Linked DNA regions of Homo sapiens. The protein of the gene in region 3 purifies or fractionates together with the protein of the main gene of each other region. This does not show direct contact. Each region holds a gene or a part of one and is shown on either strand. Other genes may lie near its edges.

Region 1 (4,392 bases), on a different chromosome or scaffold from region 3:
TTTTTTCCTCTATAAGGATATAATATTTATACATATCTCATAGTGTTGTTAGGCAGATTAAATTTAACGCATATACATTGTTCTGGTATAAAAGGTGCTCCATCAGTGTTTGCTGGTACCGTGAGTTGTAGTCTGCTAATAACAAGAGCAGGTGGCCGGCATGGCTCCCAAGGCTCTGCACGTGCTAAGTTACCATGGCATCGCCGTTCAAAGAGATGGGAGCTGAGGCACAGAGGCTTAATGACCCCACACCCAGAGGTGTTTCTGATAGACCAAAGAGAGGCCCTGAACCCAGGCTCCCTGGGAGGGCTTCTCTCTGATTCTAGGTTGCCTGACACCCACACAGGGCACTCAGCCTGGAGATGGGTGCCTAGCCAGGAAGGGTAGGGAGCCCAGCTTTCCCAGAACAGAGAAGTGGGTAAACTGCCTCGGACACCCTGTGCTCAGGACCAGCCGGGTGGTCAGGGACAAATCAGGGTCAGTGTTCCTTCCTGGGTCTGGTTTTTTCCATTTTCTCCAGAGGAGCCTAGGGTCTTCCTGTGAGGCCTGAGTCCAAGGACAGGAGCATGGGTGGCTTTGAGCAGGCAAGTGACCCACAGCCGTGCCCTTACCATTTTGTCATCATTCCCAAAGAGGATGAGTCCTGCTTTGGTGACCACCCCTGGCCGATGGGCTCCTGGGATGGGCAAAGCGTCTCCCTCGGGCACCAGGCCTGAAGTGTTCAGCGTTGAGTTGAAAAATGTCAGTTTCTGTCAAGGGGAGAAATATCAGAAGATGGTGGGTGAGAAGAAGCCCCCGAAGCCAGTAGCCCAGGCAGGTCTGAGCAGGGCTGGGAGAGGGAGAGGGGCCAGGGGTAGCTGAGACCTGGGAGCCGGCTCAAAGCCCATGTGACCCCTGAGGCCCTTTCTCCTGGGGCACAAACAAGACCTGGAGGAGCCTCAGTGGCCTCAGGGAGCTGATGGCAGGTCTGCCTCAACTCTGCCATAAGACCCTTCTCCTTGGCCCATGGCCTCAGACCTGAGGTGCACAGACTGGGGGAGAATGTGCTCCAGGCATCACGGAATGAGGCTACCTGCCTTCAGGGTGCTGCCAAGGAGTGGTTGCTTTGATCAGAAGATGCATTTGCTAGTACAAAGGGCTCTGCGTTGATGAGGACAGCAGAGAGGCTTCTGGCCACAGTCTGGGCAGTCGGCTGGGGGTCAGGGGTCTGGAGAGTCTGAGACTGTGTGGGGGACAAGACTGCCCTCAAGGTTTGCACAAAGTCCACCACACACAGTCCCGCCACCCCTGATGCCTCACTAGAGCCTGTGACCCCCAAGTCTCCCCATCTTCAGCATCTGGCCTGCCCACGGTCAGCCTGGCCCTGAATGTGCTGCTCCACCCTGCCTGAGGCCAAGTCAGAGTGAGTACTGGGCCTGGGGTCTCCGCAAGCCCAGTGGTGAGACTCAAAATATTTCACCACCAATACAGCTGGGCCCCAGGGGCACTACAAGGGCCTGGAGGCCTCCAGCTACGCAGGACATCTATCCTTTAGCTACTGCAGGCTGGGTAGGTCTCTCACTCCTGGGGAAAGGCTGGGATGTTTAGGGGGCACCCAGTGGGAGTAGGGGCCAGGGCAGTAGCTATTTATTATACCAACCAGTTCAAACATGTGTGACAGTTTAATGGCCAGTGGGATACACCAATGCACGTGGCTGGATTCCAGCCATGCAGGGACACACCTGTTCACAGGCCTCTGTCCAGGCTCCCGGCACCTTGTCGTTCCCGCGGATCCAGTTGTGAATGGCCTCTGCCGGCTGGTCCCAGTTGATCTGTGGGGAGCAAGGTGTGTGTGCTCAGCTGGTCTCTCCTCACTCCCCTCCCACCCTGATGACATCTGGACAGTGGACCAAGCTCTTGTGAGACAGCTGGTAACCCCAGCTTCCTCTTAGACACTTGCAGGAGTCCCTGAGCTGGTGCCCCTAGTTCTGGGTGCTCTCTGACCCTCAGTCTCTCATGGGCTGAGCAGACTTCAGAATGGTTTGGGGAAGATAATGTTCTGTTGCTGTCAAGATGGCCCAGACCCTACACAGAGGCCCCAGCACAATGTACTCAGGCCCGTCCCATAGGGCCCAACCTTTCACTGGCAGGGCCCCTGTGGGTCCCCACACAGCAACCCATACTCCTGAGCTGAGACACAGCCTACAGGCTTCTGAGGCTCCTCCACTGGCTATTGCTCCAGAGACCCGCACTGTCCCTCACACCTTGCCTTGAAGACTGCTCGCACTACGGCTGACGTTTTGCCCCCTAACTCCCACTCTTATCTCCCTGTGGGCTTTGTCTGCCCATTCCTCCTAAAGAGGAACAGGAAAGAACCTGGAATGGACCCTGTTCGCTACCCTCCCAGGTGCCAGGGTCCTCCTCCTCCACGGCTCTCTTCATGCATCCCTGACCTGGGCTGCCCTGTGTTCTGGCCTCAAAGAATTACAACCTGCACCATCTGGGCTGAACCCCAGCCTCCTCAGGCTGCCCTCTACAACCCCAGTCTGCTCACAGGCAGGATGAGGGTGTGGAGGGACCCAGCACTCACCTTGGCTGTCTCCTTCTTCTGAATCCCCTCATAGGTGGCTCCTTCCTCAGGCTGAGGGAGTCTGGGGGCTTTGCCCTCAGCGATCAGCCTCACGGCCTGCACCTGGGGAGATCCAGTGGGTTGCTATCCCCAGCAATAGGACCCTGCCTCCTTCCCAGCCCCAGGGCCCACATTGAGCCTGGACCCTTCCCCAGACTGACCAGACTTGCCTGGTACACAGCAGTCACCCAAGAAACACCTGCCATATGAACAAGGGAGTCAGCGTGAACCTAACTTCTATTGCACAACGGACACAGACCCGTCCTCTCTACCTGGCAAAGGTTTAGATTACATAGATCTTACATCTTCTGATATCTTAGATGATTATATAAACTGTAAAGCCCTGCAGGTATAACACAGACACAAATGTCCATGTTGCTGTCTAAGCCTTCTCTGCCTTTAAAGAGAGTGGGTCCTGAGCCCCGTGGTGGGCTTGAAGGTGGAAGTTTGGAGGTCTGAGATGAAGCAGGAAGTTGTTTCTCTGTGACAGGAAAGAGGAAGGTGGTGGGAAAGGAATCAGAGAGGGAGAAGGAGAGCCAAGGAGTCTGGGCCCACGTGAGCAAGAGCCTGAGGGAAGAGACCGGGAGGTGCCAAGAATGGGAAGTGACCGGGTGTCAGAGCATCTGAGGCAGGGCTGCCCAATGGAGCCCTCTGTGGTGATGGATGAGTTCCAAGTCTGCACGGTCCAACACGGTGGCCAGGGGACTTAGAATGTGGCTGAGACTGAGGAACTGAATTTTTCAGTATAATTCATTTTAATTGATTTAATAGCTGCATGTTACCAGTGGCTGCCTTGTTGGACAGTGCAGCTTCAAGGAGTATTTGAGTTGCTTGCCGTGGGAAGCACAGGTAAGCTCCCTCTCTGTACCACTAAATCTCCAGCAACTCTACTTTGTTCACTATTTTTGTGAGCTGGTCAATCTGTGGGGAAGACAAGTTTAACACAACCGAAAAATAAAAGGCAGTGGCCAGGAGCTGAGGAGGACGAGGGGACAGTGGACACTGCAGCTGCTCTTCCTGCTGCGCCCAAACAGCAAGGGCTCCCCAGGGCCTCCTTCCCTCCTGCTGCATGCCTGGACAGCACCTCTGCCTGTGGCCGTCCCTGCCAGCCTGTCCTCGGGCAGGGGCAAGCAGCCCTCACATATGATCCCCGGGCCCCTCCTGCAGCTGTGGGCTCCGGCCCATAGCCTGCCACCCTGCCTCTCAGCAGTACCAGCTGCCCAGGTGACTGAGCCGCCCTGCCGCTCAGGCCATGTGACCACAGGTCACGGCCTTCCCAGCAGGAAGCATGTGACGGAGACAGCCTATCAGAGCACTCCATCACCCCAGCTGGTGATTGGCTCATGAGGATCACATGACCCCCAAGCTGGCCAATCAGAATCTCCCCTGATTTGTGATTGATGAATTCTAGGAGAAAAAGTGTTTCTCTTTCCCTGGAATCAAGAATTAGAATCCTTGAGCTATAGTGGCTATCTTTCCTCTAATTCAGGGCAGCCAAACTGAGAATGAAACAAATCACACAGAGAAAAGGAGAATCAACGAGTGAAGGAGAGAGAAATAGAATCCTAACGATGTCATAATTGAAGCTCCTGGATTCAGCAGGGTGTGACCCAGTCCCTGCCTTTAGCCTTCCTTGTCTATTGAACGGGCCCCAAAATGTCCCCTTTTTGCCAAACGCTTTTTGAGCTGGGTTCTGTCCGTTGTGAGCAAGATTCCCTCCTAATACAATACACTGTTTGTCCTAATCCTGCCTCTGAAACCTTGAAGTGAGAGCTCCTCTCCCT
Region 2 (4,973 bases), on a different chromosome or scaffold from region 3:
TTAAGTATCCAAAAGCAGAAAGCGAAGGACTGCTTAACAGGACAGAAGGAATTCCTATATTCGGAAAAGTCAGAAGTCAATGTTGAAATAAAGGAGAAAAACTACTTGGATAACTGACTTATGACACTAATTTAAAAAACCCAGTGAATACTACATTAAAGAAAAAGACCGGGCACAGTGGCTCACGCCTATAATCCCAGCACTTTGGGAGGCTGAAGCGAGTGGATCACCTGAGGTCAGGAGTTGGAGACCAGCTTGGCCAACGTGGCAAAACCCTGTCTCTACTAAAAATACAAAAATTAGCTGGGCATGGTGGTGGGCTCCTGTAATCCCAGCTACTTAGGAGGCTGAGGCAGGAGAATCACTTGAACCTGGGAGGCAGAGGTTGCAGTGAGCCGAGATCGCACCACTGCACCCCAGCCTGGGTGACAGAATGGGACTCTGTCTCAAAAATAAAATAAAATAAAATAAAATTTAAAAAGAGTTAAGAAAAAGACAAAAGATAAACACCAAATAAAACTTCTTAAATAGGTAGAAACATTGAAAACCAAATTTGGGAAATTTTTTTTTAGCCAATTAAAACTGAATAACATGAGATTATTTCTTATGCCTGGTTCCATTCTAAGTCAACCACACCATCATCAAAATTTCTCTCTCTGAATATATATTCTTTTAAGTACATTGTTATTTTCCTCCATTGCATTATAGACATTCATTCCAAATGTTAACATTCCAAATATTAAAATACTCAAAGTCACAGAAAAGTCAGAATTAAATTTTATTTCACATTGATAGAAACCATGAAAAACATTTACACTTTCCCATGTTACAGCACAATATTTCAATGGAATATTTCTTGCCATAAATAATATCTTGCTGATTTGTAGAAGTGAAATAACAGTTTATGTTCTTCAAGGTAAAGAAAAATGACATAGTAAATGATTGTTTAAAATTTTTAAATCCAGACATAAACATATGGCTTCATTATTAACATCCTGTATAGTCCATTACTAAATTATTTCCATTATCAATTAGCACCCATTTATAAAGATGCATTCTTAATATTGTTTTGGTCAGCTGGAATACAGCAGAAAAATTAACACAGTTGAGAAATATCAAGCATACATTTTTGCTACATATTAATCTGTATGGTAACTACACTTTATGGTATAGGGTTCTGACTAGCCTTTATTACCCATAAGTTTGTTTTCAAATAATTTTTACCAGTAATCTGGAAATTTTGACAATTTAAAATGATTGCTATTTTTATGTCTGCATCAAAAACTAATACAAAAAATAATTTGACTAAAGTGAAAATTTCAAATAAGTCCACTGGCAGATGAAAATAAAGCAAAAAATTACAATAGATTCCTCATCTTCTACAGTAGTTGGTTTCAAACGTGTACAAAGTAAACTCTATACTATGAGAAGATGAAATCATCTTAGAAGTTAGTTTTTAAGATCAGTCTTAAAGATATTTCAGAACATACTAGAATATGATCTAATTATTCTTTCAGTTGTTTACAGAAAAATGAAACCACAGAATTATTCCTGTTACCTGGGTTGAAGATCCTAATAGCTAGGTGTAAATTTGGATAAGGTACAGTAATTCGAAATAAGTAGTGCATGAAGTTTTAATGTCTGGTTTCTCTATAAAGCATAAATAGATTTTAAATACCTTATATCTGTGACCCAGAATGTCAAATTACAGCATGTATTGACAGTAGCTGTCTATTGCAGAGAGGCAATACTTGGCCTGCTATGAAGGACAATAAAGAAAAAACAAACTTTTTTTTTTTTCTTGAGAGAAAAGAGTATTAAATAGAAATAATATCAGGGAAAATAAAAGCCTGGTCCCAAAATAAAAGGGCCATTAATTGAAGAGAACGATTTTACTTTTTCTTGACAATAAACAGCATTATCCCTATTATTAGGAATAATGTAATACCACCTCATTCTTATTATGTATTATAATCATTATGTATATATGAACACATATATAAAAATACAGACACTGCATGGTGACTAAGCAATTTTGGAATAAATCCATAGACTAAGTCACAGCATGCATAAATTGTTTATATCTTAACTGCTCATTTATACCTGAACAAATTTTCATTAAGCATACTGCTAATTTTCAAATGATGTAATAAAAAATCTGGTGGCAGTACTGTATTATTTTGCTGAATTACATTTGAGAAAAAAGAAGCTACCTGCTTCATCTATTCTAATATAGTAGATCCTGGGTCGTCTTATAAGAATACATGTATAGAAACTTAAAAGATCATAAATTTCTCATGAGGAGATATTATTTGATCTGTGTTATTGGCATGTATTTGCAAAACATTTTAACACTGCAAAACATTAGAAATTTGAAGACTGGGCATGGGAAAAGGTTTACACTCTACTACAATGATGCTGGTGTACTTCTACACAAGGCCTCTTAGTGACGTCAATCAATTGGAGGTAGGAGTTTATCAATGAATTGCTTGACATCCATCATTTCCTGTTTGGAATAAAGTAATTTAATAGGTAGGTAGTTATGTAAGTCAGAAATTAAATTCCCACTAAAATGCCACTAATCAAATCTATGGTATGCATAAAGGCGAAATCACATTTTTACTACAATTAAATAAGACAAAAGAGAAATGAGGCTCCAACAGAAATTTCAGGACATTTCCTATCATGATTATTGTACACTGAAATGACAGCTCCCATCCAGTATCTAGTTCTGCATCTTCCTATACTGGAACAATATAAGACACTGGGGGGCAGGGAAGTTTAGAAGCGATGGTGCCTACACTGAGAAGTCTCAGTAAGTGAACAATTACTGACAACTAAGTATGAGTGACAAAGCAGAGCTTCTACCATTCTTCAAACTGAATTATGCGCTAAATCCATAGCATTAACTATGCTGTGTCTTTCATAAAGAATTACATACAACTAACCATTTGATAGAGAGCATGTACCTAAGATGTTCCTGGGAAGATATGAACATTAATATACCAAAGATTTATCATAGAAGAAACTTTCTCCTCTTAGCCTCTTGCATTTGGCTCAGTTTTCTCACCTCCCTCAAACTCACTTCCTGCTATCAGCTCTTATATTTCAAGGCCTTACTTAGCCTCACAGTGCCAAATAGTAGCAATGCAGCTAACCTTCAGCCTTGTAATTTAGTCACTCAGAAAAGAGCCCCAGCATGAAAGTGTTCTATTTCACAATACTCTGAAGTCCCAAAGAGTTTCCTGTGAGATCACCTCCCACTATCCTACTTCTCCTCATTTTCTGCTCCTCCTCATTCAGCCCAGAGTTGTTGTAGACTCATCTATAGAGCTTTTATGAAGCTCCAAGGTATTTGTGATACAAAGCCCATGAAGAAAACAGCTGCTCTAGAGACCTTCAGTCCCTCTTGCACACATTAAGGGTTCCAGGACTTCCCCTGCCCTCTCTTTTCTGGATTCAACACTGTAATACTCTATATCAGTAGGAGAACACCCTAGGTTCAGGTTCCCAGGCACCCTTGTCTTTCTGGATAAATCATATTACCACCTCTTTCTCCGTCCCTAAATTATTTAACCCAGGCTGAGTGGTTGTAAAACTGTCAGTATGACTATCTCACTAGGAATCAATTTTTACTCTAGGTCTTCTCAAGCCTCCAGACCTATCCAGGCCTCCGGCCTCCTTCATTCTATCAAGTGATCGCACCTTCTACTTGACTGAAAAGATAAGCACATCTAATATGAGCTCCCAAGCACTCTCTTCTCTCTCCATCTCCTGTTTATATTCATCCATCCTTTCTTTCTTTTTTTTAGGGTCTCACTCTGTCACTCAGGCTGGAGTGCAGGGTGCCAACATGGCTCACTGCAGCAGCAACCTCCGGAGATCAAGTGATCCTCTCGCCTCAGCCTCTAGAGTAATTGGAACCACAGGTGCCCGCCACCTCACCCGGCCTGTCCTCTTCTATCTTGATTGAAAATGGTTTTCTCCTCTTTTAAGGCAAGCACTATACATCTCAGGACTTAATTCTATTCTATGATCCCTCTGAGAATGCCTCTATCAATTATCTTCTCTTTACTGCATCTTCTTCCTCCCTCCTTCCACTCATAGGTCTTTCTCTGATCCCACTGAAGAACAGATTTCCTACTCTTCTTCCTGTTTACCAAAACTTTTTTAAAAGGTCTATACATGTTGCCTCTGCTTCCTCATTTCCCTATCCACTTCATACAATCCTTTGCATTTTGGCTTTATCTACCCAAACATCCAAGGTCACAGGTGGCTTAATATTGGGTACTTTCTTCCTAAACTATTTCTCCTTAATCCTTCTCTGGAACACATTACACATCTCCTTCCCACTCTGAAATTCTCTCCACCCATACTCTCAACACCTAACTCCTTTTCTCATTAGGCTAAACTGTAATGTGTCCCCCAAAGTTCTATCCCTGAGCTTTTTTTCTTATAATGCTTTCTCAAGATAATTCTTCGTTGATCAATTATATTAGTAATTATTTCAAATCTCCATTTCCAGGCTTGAACTTCAGACAAGTATTTCCAATATCCTATTTTGATATTGTGGGGGCACATTGATCTCAATACATTAAACTCAGTATTATCTCCTTCCTTTACTCTAAAACTGTTTCTTGCACCTACTTTTTATGATGGCATCAGAACTAGAAATCTCAGGCCCTTTTGATACTTCCTTGGTTACTACACCCCACATAATTAATCTCTAAATCCTGCTGGATCACCTGTCTCTAGAATGTAGATCAGATCACATCTCACTTCAACCAAAAACACTGACAGCTTCCTGCTGCCTAGAGAGTAAGTCTAGTAAGTCCCTTCTCAGCACAAAGAGTCTCTGTTCCCTATGTCTTCTGTCCTATCATGCCCAGCTTTTCCTAAGACTGAATGGCTTGCTTTTCCTGTCCTATAGTTCTTTCTCTGCACATTTGCTATCCAAATCCCACCGTTTTTCA
Region 3 (5,162 bases):
GTGAAGGAAGCAGACCTGGGTCCACAGTGAATCCTTCTGGATTTATACAGTGTTAGAATCCCAAAAATGTTTGAGAGCTGCAGGCCTTGGAACTCCTCCAGCTCAACCATCTCAATTTACAGATGAAAAAGCGGAGGCCCAGGGCACACAGCTATTTAGTGTCAGGCGGAATTCCCATTCTGAGTTCTGGACTTTCTCTGTGACTTCTCCACACTCCATCTGACTAGCAAACTTTTTAGTTCCACGTCTAATGCAGCAGCTACTATATGCCAGGCCCTGTGGTAGATGGTGGTGATTCAAAGATGCATATGACTATTATGATCTAATTGGTGACAGAGAGCTTCAGAACTAATTCTAACTGGTAAAAATTACCAATAGATTTTAATATATGGGTAAATGCTTATGTTAACAATGCTAAATGAGAAAACAGCAATGAAATTGTATATATAGTTGGCCCTTGGACACATATTTGAACTGCACAGGTCCACTTATACACAGATTTTTTTTTTCACCCAAAAGCGGATAGAAAACAGTATTTTCAGGCAGAAATGCTTAAACAGAGGGCAGACTTTTCCTATACGCGGGTTCCCCAGGGCCCACAGCTGGACTTGGACTTGAATATGGGATGATTTTAGTATGGGGGGGCGGAGGGGAAGAGGGCCTGGAACTAGTCCGTTGAGTATAACGAGGGACAATGCTAAGTATGTTATAATCTCATTAAAAGTACACAGAACTTGAGATACGCAATAACCTACTAACGAACCAAGTGTTACAAGACATGCTAAGACCTTGTGTTGTAAGTACTTGTGCACTTACTCGATCTCCCTGCTTTAGGGCCAGGACCGAGTTTTTTTGTTTTTGTTTTTGTTTTTGTTTATGTATTCTCTCGTTGTATCAGTTCATCTTGCCCCAGACCTGTCACCCACTAGAATTTGTTGTTAAACAAATGAAGCTTCCTTTCTCATGTGGCCCCCACCCCTCTCCTAAAGGAGAATAAAAGGTCGAGAGAACGGATGAGGTTAGAATGCTGGTGGGACTGAGATGGGAAAGGACCTTAAAGGTTACTCGCCCAAAGAGGAAAACCAGCCTTTTCCCTGCAGACGGAAACTGACGCGCTCCCCCTGGAGGCAGCGCAGGATGCTCCCGGGGGTCCAGGCGTCCCAGCCTGAGGTCCCCATCCTCGTGTGCAGCCTGGGCGCCTGGTACAAGTCGGGGTAACCCTGAGGCTTGTGCATCCAGAGAAGCTAGGTCCCCGGTGGAGACTAGCTTGGGATAAGGTTGGGGAGACGCCCTCCGTTCTTCTAGATGCCTGGGGTCTCAACAGCAAGCAGTGAGGAATGAGACTCTTAACTGAACAACTCCTGAGACTGTTAAAGGAGTGCATACTATTACAGGGACAGGCATCCCCTGTGAACCTACTCATGAATTTTTCCTAATGCTTAATTCAGCTTGGGGGCAGAAATGCTGGGGTGAGACACGGCCAGGTCCGCCCCGTTCCTCCAGGGAACTCCCCTCTCCGCCCTCCCTCTCCGTCTCCTCTTGCCCACCTCCTCCTCCTCCCCTCCCCCCACTCCATCCCACCGCGCCCGCCCCTCGTCATCGCCCCCTTTCCCCTCCCATCTCCCGGCCGTGGTGCGGCGCAGCTCTCTCCCCCTCCGCAGTCTCAGTGGCGAGCTCTGGGTGCTGTGGCCCGGCCTTGGCGGGGCGGCCTCCGGCTCAGGCTGGCTGAGAGGCTCCCAGCTGCAGCGTCCCCGCCCGCCTCCTCGGGAGCTCTGATCTCAGCTGACAGTGCCCTCGGGGACCAAACAAGCCTGGCAGGTAAAGATGAAGCTCCCCAAACCCAACAACCTTAGAACTTAGAAATTTCCCTGAGAAAGGCAGGACCTACCCGAGGAGAGCTTCTTTGAAGGACTTTGAAGAAAGGGATCAAACTTGACACTTTCTTTCAGTCCTCAAAGAAACTAACCACCCTTCCCATAGGCAATTCTGTGTGCCGGCCTCTGCACAGTTTAATATTAACGACAACAATGTTTGCATTGGAATATAAATGGAATTCTTTCTGCTTAAGCAGTACCAGAGGGGACCCTCTTTATTTTTATGATTGTTAACAGATGCCATTGAGAAAGGTATGAAACGCATTCCTGAAAAGTCTCTTTGGCGGGGTTACTATGAAAGCTAGCCTCTCCCCTCTACCCTTTTATCAACTTGGCTGCGGAGGTCAGCAAAAGGAGCATAGGAAAACGTTTAGAAAATGAGGCGGCGAAATGAAGTAGAAAAGCTTTTGACTTGCTTTGAAATACTCTAGCTGAAAAAAAAAAGTGTGTGGGGTGGTGATGGTGGATGAAACATTGGCAAAATATTGACAATAGTTGAAGCTGGTGATGTGCACATGGGGGTTGTACTTTTCTCTCAACTTAATACTTTTCTCTGTGCTTTTGTGTAGTCTTGAAATTTTCTATAATAAAAGGTTTTTTAAAAAGTTGTAGAAACACTCCCGCTTGATTGCTCTGACATTTTTACACTGTCCTTGATTTGAAAAGAAGCTGCTTGCTGTGTCTAGGGGGCTTTCACCCCTTATTAACCCTTCTGACTTCTGAAATTCATTCTTATTTTATCCGAAGTACATTTGTCTCCACAGAGGATTATAAAAGTCATATTTTGCTGGCTGGAGAATTATACTTAGAATCTGGTTTATAATTTAGAAGAGAGAATGTTAAAATCCCTGCCAAATAAGACATGTAGGCTTGAAGGTAGAGGCCAAGTATCATATGGAATTTTATTTTTATTAGGAAATATTAGAGGAGTTCCTTTAGTGAGGGAAGTGGTAGATGTGGATACTGTACCCCATTTTTCTTCCAGATAGCTGGGAAAACTGCATGCTTTTAAGAAGCTTTTTCACGTTTTAAAATGTGAGACTGTTTAGCATATACTTGGCATACAGTATGTGTTCATTAGATGTTAAAATAAGCAATTGCTAGTGTGAGTTAATTTTCTCCATTGGGTAAATGATTTTCCTCTGCCCAATGCTCAAATATCAAACAAGCATATTGCATTTTAACAGTAGGATCAGACTCAGAATTTGGGAGGATAGAGCTACTTTACCTTAGCACTGAGGTAACTTTGCAGATGAGAAATCTGAGATGGAGAGGTTAGGAAACAGTAAAGTTAAGTTAGTAGTATGCAAGCTATTATTTTATAACTAAAAAACGTTAAGCTTCGTATAGGTAAAACTGATGTGGGTTAGCTAAAAACATTGTGACCATAGATGCTTTAAAACCTGAAAAGTAGCATACCTATTTATAGATATTCTTTGCTCTCAAAGGCCAACTTGAAAAATACAGATAAGTCTAGAGCTATATGCTGTGCACTTCATAAGGCAGCATATGAAAGAGTCCTCTTGGGGTTCCTTTAATGTCATTCACCCAAAATTTGATTTATCCATAGGATTGCACAAATTGAGATGTACAGGTCATGGAAAAATAGCCCCCAAACAAAGGGAGGTTTTGTTTTTTATTGTGATGAGAAACAGAAGTTGTGGGTTACTGTAAAATAATCAACTGTGTAACTTTACCATCTTCCTTTCCCTCAAGTACTGCCAAACTTTTTAAGCAGACATTTTTTTGGTCTCCATTTATGAAACTAAACTTGAAAATAGTGCTATGGTATGATATTTTGAATAGAAATTGGCCCACTGTCAATGAACTTTCTTGCCATTTATTCTCAGCCTAGAATCAGTGGAGAGCTTATCCTTTAGTAATGGATTATAAAGTATTTGATAAACGTGAAATATTTGGCAGGTTCAAGATTTTCCTTAGCATTGAAATAAATTGTGGCACATTTGGGGGACTAGTTAACAGTGCTGTAGGTCATGCTGGAAGTGTGCTGGCACTACAACTGTTTTTGAAAAACTATCTGCCAGAAAATTGTCTGACTGTAGACAGCATTATCAGCCCTCAGTTCATCAGGATGGGCTCTGTGGCCTGTAGGTAGGTGGGTTTTCTAAATATAATAAATTTCATATGTCTCCCTATGTCACAGCCATTTAGTATATTATTAGCCAGTTAAAAGTTTTGCCCCTGCTGAATCTTACATGCTTTTAAAATAAAATCTATTTCACAGCTGAGTAAGTGTAAACATTTTAAATACCTGCGTTAGATTTGCCATCACCAGGCTAATTTTGCCATCTAGTGGTAGCAACATGGATAACAGGCAAGTTCTTCCCTGGATGACTAGGAATTGAACCTTCCTGAGAAGCATTGATGAGTAAATTACTTGTGTTTTCTCATTTGTGGTTTACTCTAGAACTTTAAAGCTGGAAGAAATCTTAGAAATGTTCTAGTCCAACTCAACAGTTAAGGACTATCAGAGAGATTCTTTAAAATAAAGGCTTCGAAATGCATGGCGGAGTTAGCAGGTGGTATGCATTTGTTGAATAGACAAATTTATCTATCCTGTTCTAATTCTTGTTTTTCCTCTAGCAATATTGCATCCTACCACTATGAAGTTTTATCGTGATCTTCTGTTTTTAGTTTTAAAATTGCATTTCTGTATATTATTTCTTAAAATAACACATTTTCATTTATATTTTAAGTCCCAGAAGGAAACATTCTTTTCTACTGTTTTTGTTTGTTTGCTTTGAGACAGGGTTGCCCTGTCTCATTCTAGTTGTCCAGGCTGGAGTGTAGTGACACAATCACAGCTCACTGCAGCGTCCACCTCCCAGCTTAGGTGATCCTCCCAACTCAGCCCAGAGTAGCTGGGACCACAGGCATGCGCCACCACACTTGTAGAGACAGGGTCTCCCTATGTTGCCCAGGCTACTCTCAAACTCCTGGACTCAAGTGATCCTCCCATCCCAGCCTCCCAAAGTGCTAGGATTACAGGTGTGAGGCACCGCGCCCGGCCCTTTTCTACTTTTTAATCACTCCCTACTACTACTACTTCTCTTTTCTTTTTTTTGACGGAGTCTCGCTCTGTTGCCCAGGCTGGAGTGCAATGGCGTGATCTCACCTCACTGCAACCTCTGCCTCCCGGTTCAGGGGATTCTCCTGCCTCAGCCTCCCCAGTAGCTGGGATTACAGGTACACAACAGCATGCCTGGCTAATTTTTGTATTTTTAGCAGAGACGGGGTTTCACCACGTTGGCCAGGCTGGTCTGGAAC
Region 4 (5,103 bases), on a different chromosome or scaffold from region 3:
GACTGTGTTTGCAGCATTCCTTGGGTTTAAACAATATAAACTACTTCTAAAGGCCCTTCAGTTACCTGAACCTGGCAGAGAAATTCATTGACTTTAAGCAAACATGTACAGAAAAATAAAATGGTAAAAATAAAAAAAGAAAATATTACAGAAAGCATAGAGTTCAAATTATCACATTTTATATACAAGGTCCATTTATAAAGACCAAGGTTTCTATACTGTATTTCCTTACAAATAAAACTTACTAGGGAAATTTAAGAATAAGAGCCTCATTCAAAAGTCGGCCAAACGAAGCCACTACTCCAACATCATATTCTCCAGATCCCACATCCGGCCACTCATATACGGGAAGCTGAGACTGCACAGCATATTGCTTCACTGGCAGTCCTTTTGGTGATGGGGAAGGCATTGTGACCACCTCCAGTTTGTCGATTAACTCTTCTTCTTTGTTTTCCCTAAATTAGATAGGAAGAAAAATGTGACAGTGTTAAGGCAATGACTCAAAGCTAAAACTACTTCACATATCGCTAAGTATGTTTATGATTAATCTCATGAAGCATTTAGGGCTAAATGATTAAAACTAGTGTGAGAGACTGAGTTTTCATTTTTTCTTTTTCTTTTTTTTTTTTTGAGCTGGAGTCTCACTCTGTCACCCAGGCTGGAGTGCAGTGGAGCGATCTCAGCTCACTGCAACCTCTGCCCCCTAGGTTCAAGCGATTATCCTGCCTCAGTCTCCCGAATAGCTGGGATTACAGGCATGCACCACCACACCCAGCTAATTTTTGTGTTTTTTAGTGGAGGCAGGGTTTCCCCATGTTGGCCAGGCTGGTCTCCAACTCCTGACCTCAAGTGATCCGTCCGCCTCCACCTCCCAAAGTGCTGGGATTACAGGCGTGAACACCGTGCCCAGCCTCAGTTTTCATTTTTTATTTAATTTTAATTATTTAAAATGTAAAGAGTGACACGTGGCTAGTGGCTACTGTTTGAACAGTATCATTCTAGGGATTTCCTGTGCATACAGAAACATATACAGTATGGATACTTTACACAACTGGGATATTACATACTGCTTTGCATTTTTTTTCCTTTTAACAATGCTATATATGCTATTATGTGTCTTTTTGAAAAATGGGTTAAATATACGTATATTTGTATATTCACTGAACATTTCTAGAAGGAACTGAAAACAGTGGCTGTCTCTGGATAAAGGAACTGGGAACTGCTAAACAGAGGTGGAAGGAAGTAACTTTTCACTGTATATCCTTTGAATCCATGGAACTTTTTTACCATAACCATGATGCCATTCAAACACTACTTTTTAAAAAACAAACAAAAATACATAACATGGCTATCATTCCATGGCAGTACCTGTAGCACTACCTCATCCTTTCTACCTGCTGCATAGCATTCTAGTACCCAGGGGGGTACATTTATTAAACAGGTATTGTATGTACACGTTGAGGAGTTATGAGGAGTATGTCCTGGGGCACTATAAAGAAAGCACAGGAGTAATGGAGCTGCCAAGTGAAGCATCATCAGAAGTATCAGGATAGGCCAGGAATGATGGCTCAGGCCTGTAATCTCAGCACTTTGGGAGGCCAAGGTGAGAGGATCACTTGATCCCAGGAGTTTGAGATAAGCCTGGGCAACATGGTGAAAACCCGCCTCTACAAAAAATTTAAAAATCAGGCGTGGTGGTGCACGCCCGTAGTCCTAGCTACTCTGGAAGCTGAGATGGGATGATTGCTTGATCTTTGAGGTCGAGGCTGCAGTGAGCTATGAGCCGGCCACTGCACTCCAGCCTGGGGGACAGCGCGAGACCTCGCCTCAGAAACAAACAAAAAAAGTGTTGGTATAAATGTATAAATGCAGTGAGAGACGCATGTGACAACAGCAGCCCATGAAGGGTGTGCAAAGGGAACATGGGGTTTCCTTCCGGGTGTGTGCACAGAGGGGTGTGTGGAGGAAGGAAAACCACACAGGGGATTGACGAAGGATTCAATACATGAGGGGCTGCTGTGAAGTATCTGTAGGGAAAAGGAGATGGAGATGACCAAAAAAAGTGGAAGGAGGACTGCGTCAGAAAAAAACAGAATGGGGAAATAAAAAACATTAATTGGGAAAAAGAGGCAGAGAAGTATATACGGTATTGCCACCACATACCATGGACTCTCAGGACTGGTTGGATTTCAAATAATTTTCTTTCCCAGTAAACAAAACTTGTTAAATATTATGAATACTAAATGTATACCTAACAGTTCTGATTTATAAATTTATTCTTTTGAAAACAGGTCGTTTTTGGACTATGTCCTTGTATACAAGGAGCACAGGGGGAGCAAAAGAGCGAGACACGGGTGTGCCGAAGGATGGGGGTCAGGAGGAACTGCAAAGCAGGGAACTTTGAAGTGGGACCTGGTTTTAGTCCGAACCACCTCGGCTGATGACCTTGGGCAATCGCATAACCTCTCTGAGCCACGGATTCCCCACACTCAAAACGGGCAGGGAGGCCGTGGGACTGGCCCGGGGGATGCAGGCAGAGCGCCCAGCCCCAGCTCGGCACAGCGTGGGTGGCAGGGCGCCTGGAGAACCCACAGAGGCGGCGGGGAGTGAGGGGCGCAGACCGCAGGTACTAGGCGCCCAAAGGCTGACCGGCGGGAATGGCGCACCTTCTGGGAGCCAGAAGACGCCGAGATCTGGGCCCACACCGCTCTGCCGCCCATGCTTTCCGCAACCAGAAGTCCAAAACCCTCGGGGCCGGCCGCCCGGGCGCGGCCTGGAGGCCTTCAGCGGCCGGGTCCCCGGATCCCTGGCCCGGGTACCTGGCGGCGTGCAGCGCCCGCAGCGCCTCGCGGGCGAACTGGTCCGTGCCGAAGAAGAGCACCCGCCAGGGAGGCTTCTCGCGGACTCTGGAGTCCCGGCAGTCCTCCCAGCCGAGTCGGGCCAGTGCTCGCCACTGGGGACTCGGCCTCCCACGCCTGGCGCCATGAGCCAGCGGAGGACCCCAACAGCGCCGCACCAACACCCTCATCGCCTCGGCCGCCGGCGGCCGGCCCTGCGCAGGCGCATCGGGGCGGGGACAAGGGTGCAGCCTGGGGAGGGCGGGGCTTGCCTGCTTGGAGGCGGGGTCTGGTTGGAGTTGGTGAACGAATTTGCCCGCTACAGCGGCCCTAGATTTTTGTTCTGTTTATTTGCACTATGTAGCCAATCCTCCAGAATAAGTCTTTCTTTTCTTTTTAAAATCGCTTTATTTATTTATTTATTTATTTATTTATTTATTTCAGAAAGGGTCTTGCTCTGTCGCGCAGGCTGGAGTGCTGTGGCGCGATCTCTGCTTACTGCAACCTCACTGCTCCTGGGCTCAAGGGATCCTCCCACCTCAGCCTCCGGAGTAGCTGGGGTACAGGCACACATCACCATGCTGGGCTGATTTTTTGTAGAGAGAGTATCTCACTATGTTGCCCAGGTCTCAAGCAATCCTCCTGCCTTGGCCTCCCCAAGTGCTGGGGTTACAGGCGTGAGCCACTGCGCCGGCCCAGGATAAGTCTTTTGGTAACAAATCGTGCATGTTTTCAGACAATGAAACCTCATGTATATAGTGCATGTCATTTCCTCAACCATTATAACCAATATTTGCTGAGTACTTCACTCCGTGCCACGTTTTTGCTAAGCATTTTATATTCATTATTCTGGTTAATCATCAGATCAACCTTAGGAGGTAGATACTATTACAAATATGTTACTGAAGAGAAACTGAAGCTCCGTGAAATTAAGGACTTACCAGTGTATAAGGTCCACACAGCTAGTAAAGGACAGAGCAGAGGTGGGACTCTTGTAATTCCAACGCTTGTAATCCTAGCCGTTGGGCCTTCTCAGCGATCCTATGTATTAGGCAAGTCAATTACCCACATTTTGCACCTGAGGAAACTGAGCCTTAGTTACTTGTCTGCAGTTACTTTCTTGAATCGAAGGCTCCATCTTTACTCCTCCCCTGTGGGTTCCTTTGCACACAGAAGGATACCATAGAGGTGATTCCTAGGGAAATGGACAGGGAACCTTATCCCCAGAAGACCTCCGAGGACCGTTAGTGCTTAGATTCTGTATCCCCAAAGCCTCCTTGAGTGGAGTCAGACATCCATGAAACAGGATCTGAGCAGAGACTGAAACCGAATTTTGTTCTAATCTTATTCTCACCACCATTTTTTTTTTTTTTTTTTTTTTTTTTGAGATGGAGTCTCGCTCTGTTTTTCAGGCTGGAGGGCAGTGGCGGGCGATCTTGGCTCACTGCAACCGCTGCTTCCCAGGTTCAGGCGATTCTCCTGCCTCAGCCTCCCAAGTAGCTGGGACATGCGCCACTACACCTAGCTAATTTTTGTATTTTTAGTAGAGATGGGATTCACTATGTTGACCAGGCTGGTCTTGAACTCCTGACCTCAGGTGATCTGCCTGCCTTGGCCCCCCAAAGTGCTAGGATTACAGGCATGAGCCACTGCGCCCTGCCGTCTCACCACCTTTTCCCATCACACAGTCTTAAACCCAGTGACCCTGGACCAGTCCTTTTTCCTAAATTATGAGCTCTGCACATCCCTGCTCCTGTGCCTTTGCTCATGCTCCCTTCCTAGACTGCCTTCCCACATCTCTTCATCTCTAAATGGTATCCATTCTTCAACACGAAGTTCAGACATTCGCCCTGAAGCTTCAAGCTCTTGCCTCCTTAGATTTCTTGTCTTTCTCCATGTGCCCCTGTTTTTTTTTGTTGTTGCTGTTGTTTTTGTTTTTGTTTTTGAGACAGAGTCTCACTCTGTCACCCAGGCTGGAGTGCAGTGGTGTGATCTTGGCTCACTGCACCCTCCACCTCCCCTGTGCAAGCGATTCTGCTGCCTCAGCCTCCTGAGTAGCTGTGATTACAGGCGCCTGCCACCACGTCTGGCTAATTTTTTGTATTTTTAGTAGAGATGGGGTTTTGCCGTGTTGGGCAGGCTGGTCTCGAACTCCTGACCTCAGGTGATCCACCTGCTTTGGCCTCCCAAAGTGCTGGGATTACAGGCATGAGCCACCGTGCTTAGCCCATGTGCCCCCTTAATACTCTGTAGGGACCCCCATTTC

What was found. Proteins that work in one complex are often made in the same cells at the same time.
Region 1: the proteins of PRSS35 (region 3) and ALDH1L1 purify together in Homo sapiens (co-immunoprecipitation; one large-scale study listed by IntAct). This does not show direct contact.
Region 2: the proteins of PRSS35 (region 3) and LYPLA1 purify together in Homo sapiens (co-immunoprecipitation; one large-scale study listed by IntAct). This does not show direct contact.
Region 4: the proteins of PRSS35 (region 3) and MTFMT purify together in Homo sapiens (affinity purification with mass spectrometry; one large-scale study listed by BioGRID and IntAct). This does not show direct contact.

The regions. Positions count from the first base shown.
Region 1 is NC_000003.12:126,152,833-126,157,224, forward strand, and holds part of ALDH1L1 (cytosolic 10-formyltetrahydrofolate dehydrogenase), read right to left. Parts: intron 2,672-4,392; coding exon 2,570-2,671; intron 1,812-2,569; coding exon 1,722-1,811; intron 750-1,721; coding exon 612-749; intron 1-611. UniProt on the Homo sapiens protein: Cytosolic 10-formyltetrahydrofolate dehydrogenase that catalyzes the NADP(+)-dependent conversion of 10-formyltetrahydrofolate to tetrahydrofolate and carbon dioxide.
Region 2 is NC_000008.11:54,045,613-54,050,585, forward strand, and holds the end of LYPLA1 (acyl-protein thioesterase 1), read right to left. Parts: exon of another isoform or gene 3,642-4,973; intron 2,507-3,641; coding exon 2,453-2,506; 3' UTR 755-2,452; downstream 1-754. UniProt on the Homo sapiens protein: Acts as an acyl-protein thioesterase. Hydrolyzes fatty acids from S-acylated cysteine residues in proteins such as trimeric G alpha proteins or HRAS.
Region 3 is NC_000006.12:83,510,877-83,516,038, forward strand, and holds the start of PRSS35 (inactive serine protease 35 precursor), read left to right. Parts: upstream 1-1,657; 5' UTR 1,658-1,818; intron 1,819-5,162.
Region 4 is NC_000015.10:65,026,586-65,031,688, forward strand, and holds the start of MTFMT (methionyl-tRNA formyltransferase, mitochondrial), read right to left. Parts: upstream 3,055-5,103; 5' UTR 3,029-3,054; coding exon 2,820-3,028; coding exon of another isoform or gene 2,667-2,819; intron 456-2,666; coding exon 246-455; intron 1-245. UniProt on the Homo sapiens protein: Methionyl-tRNA formyltransferase that formylates methionyl-tRNA in mitochondria and is crucial for translation initiation.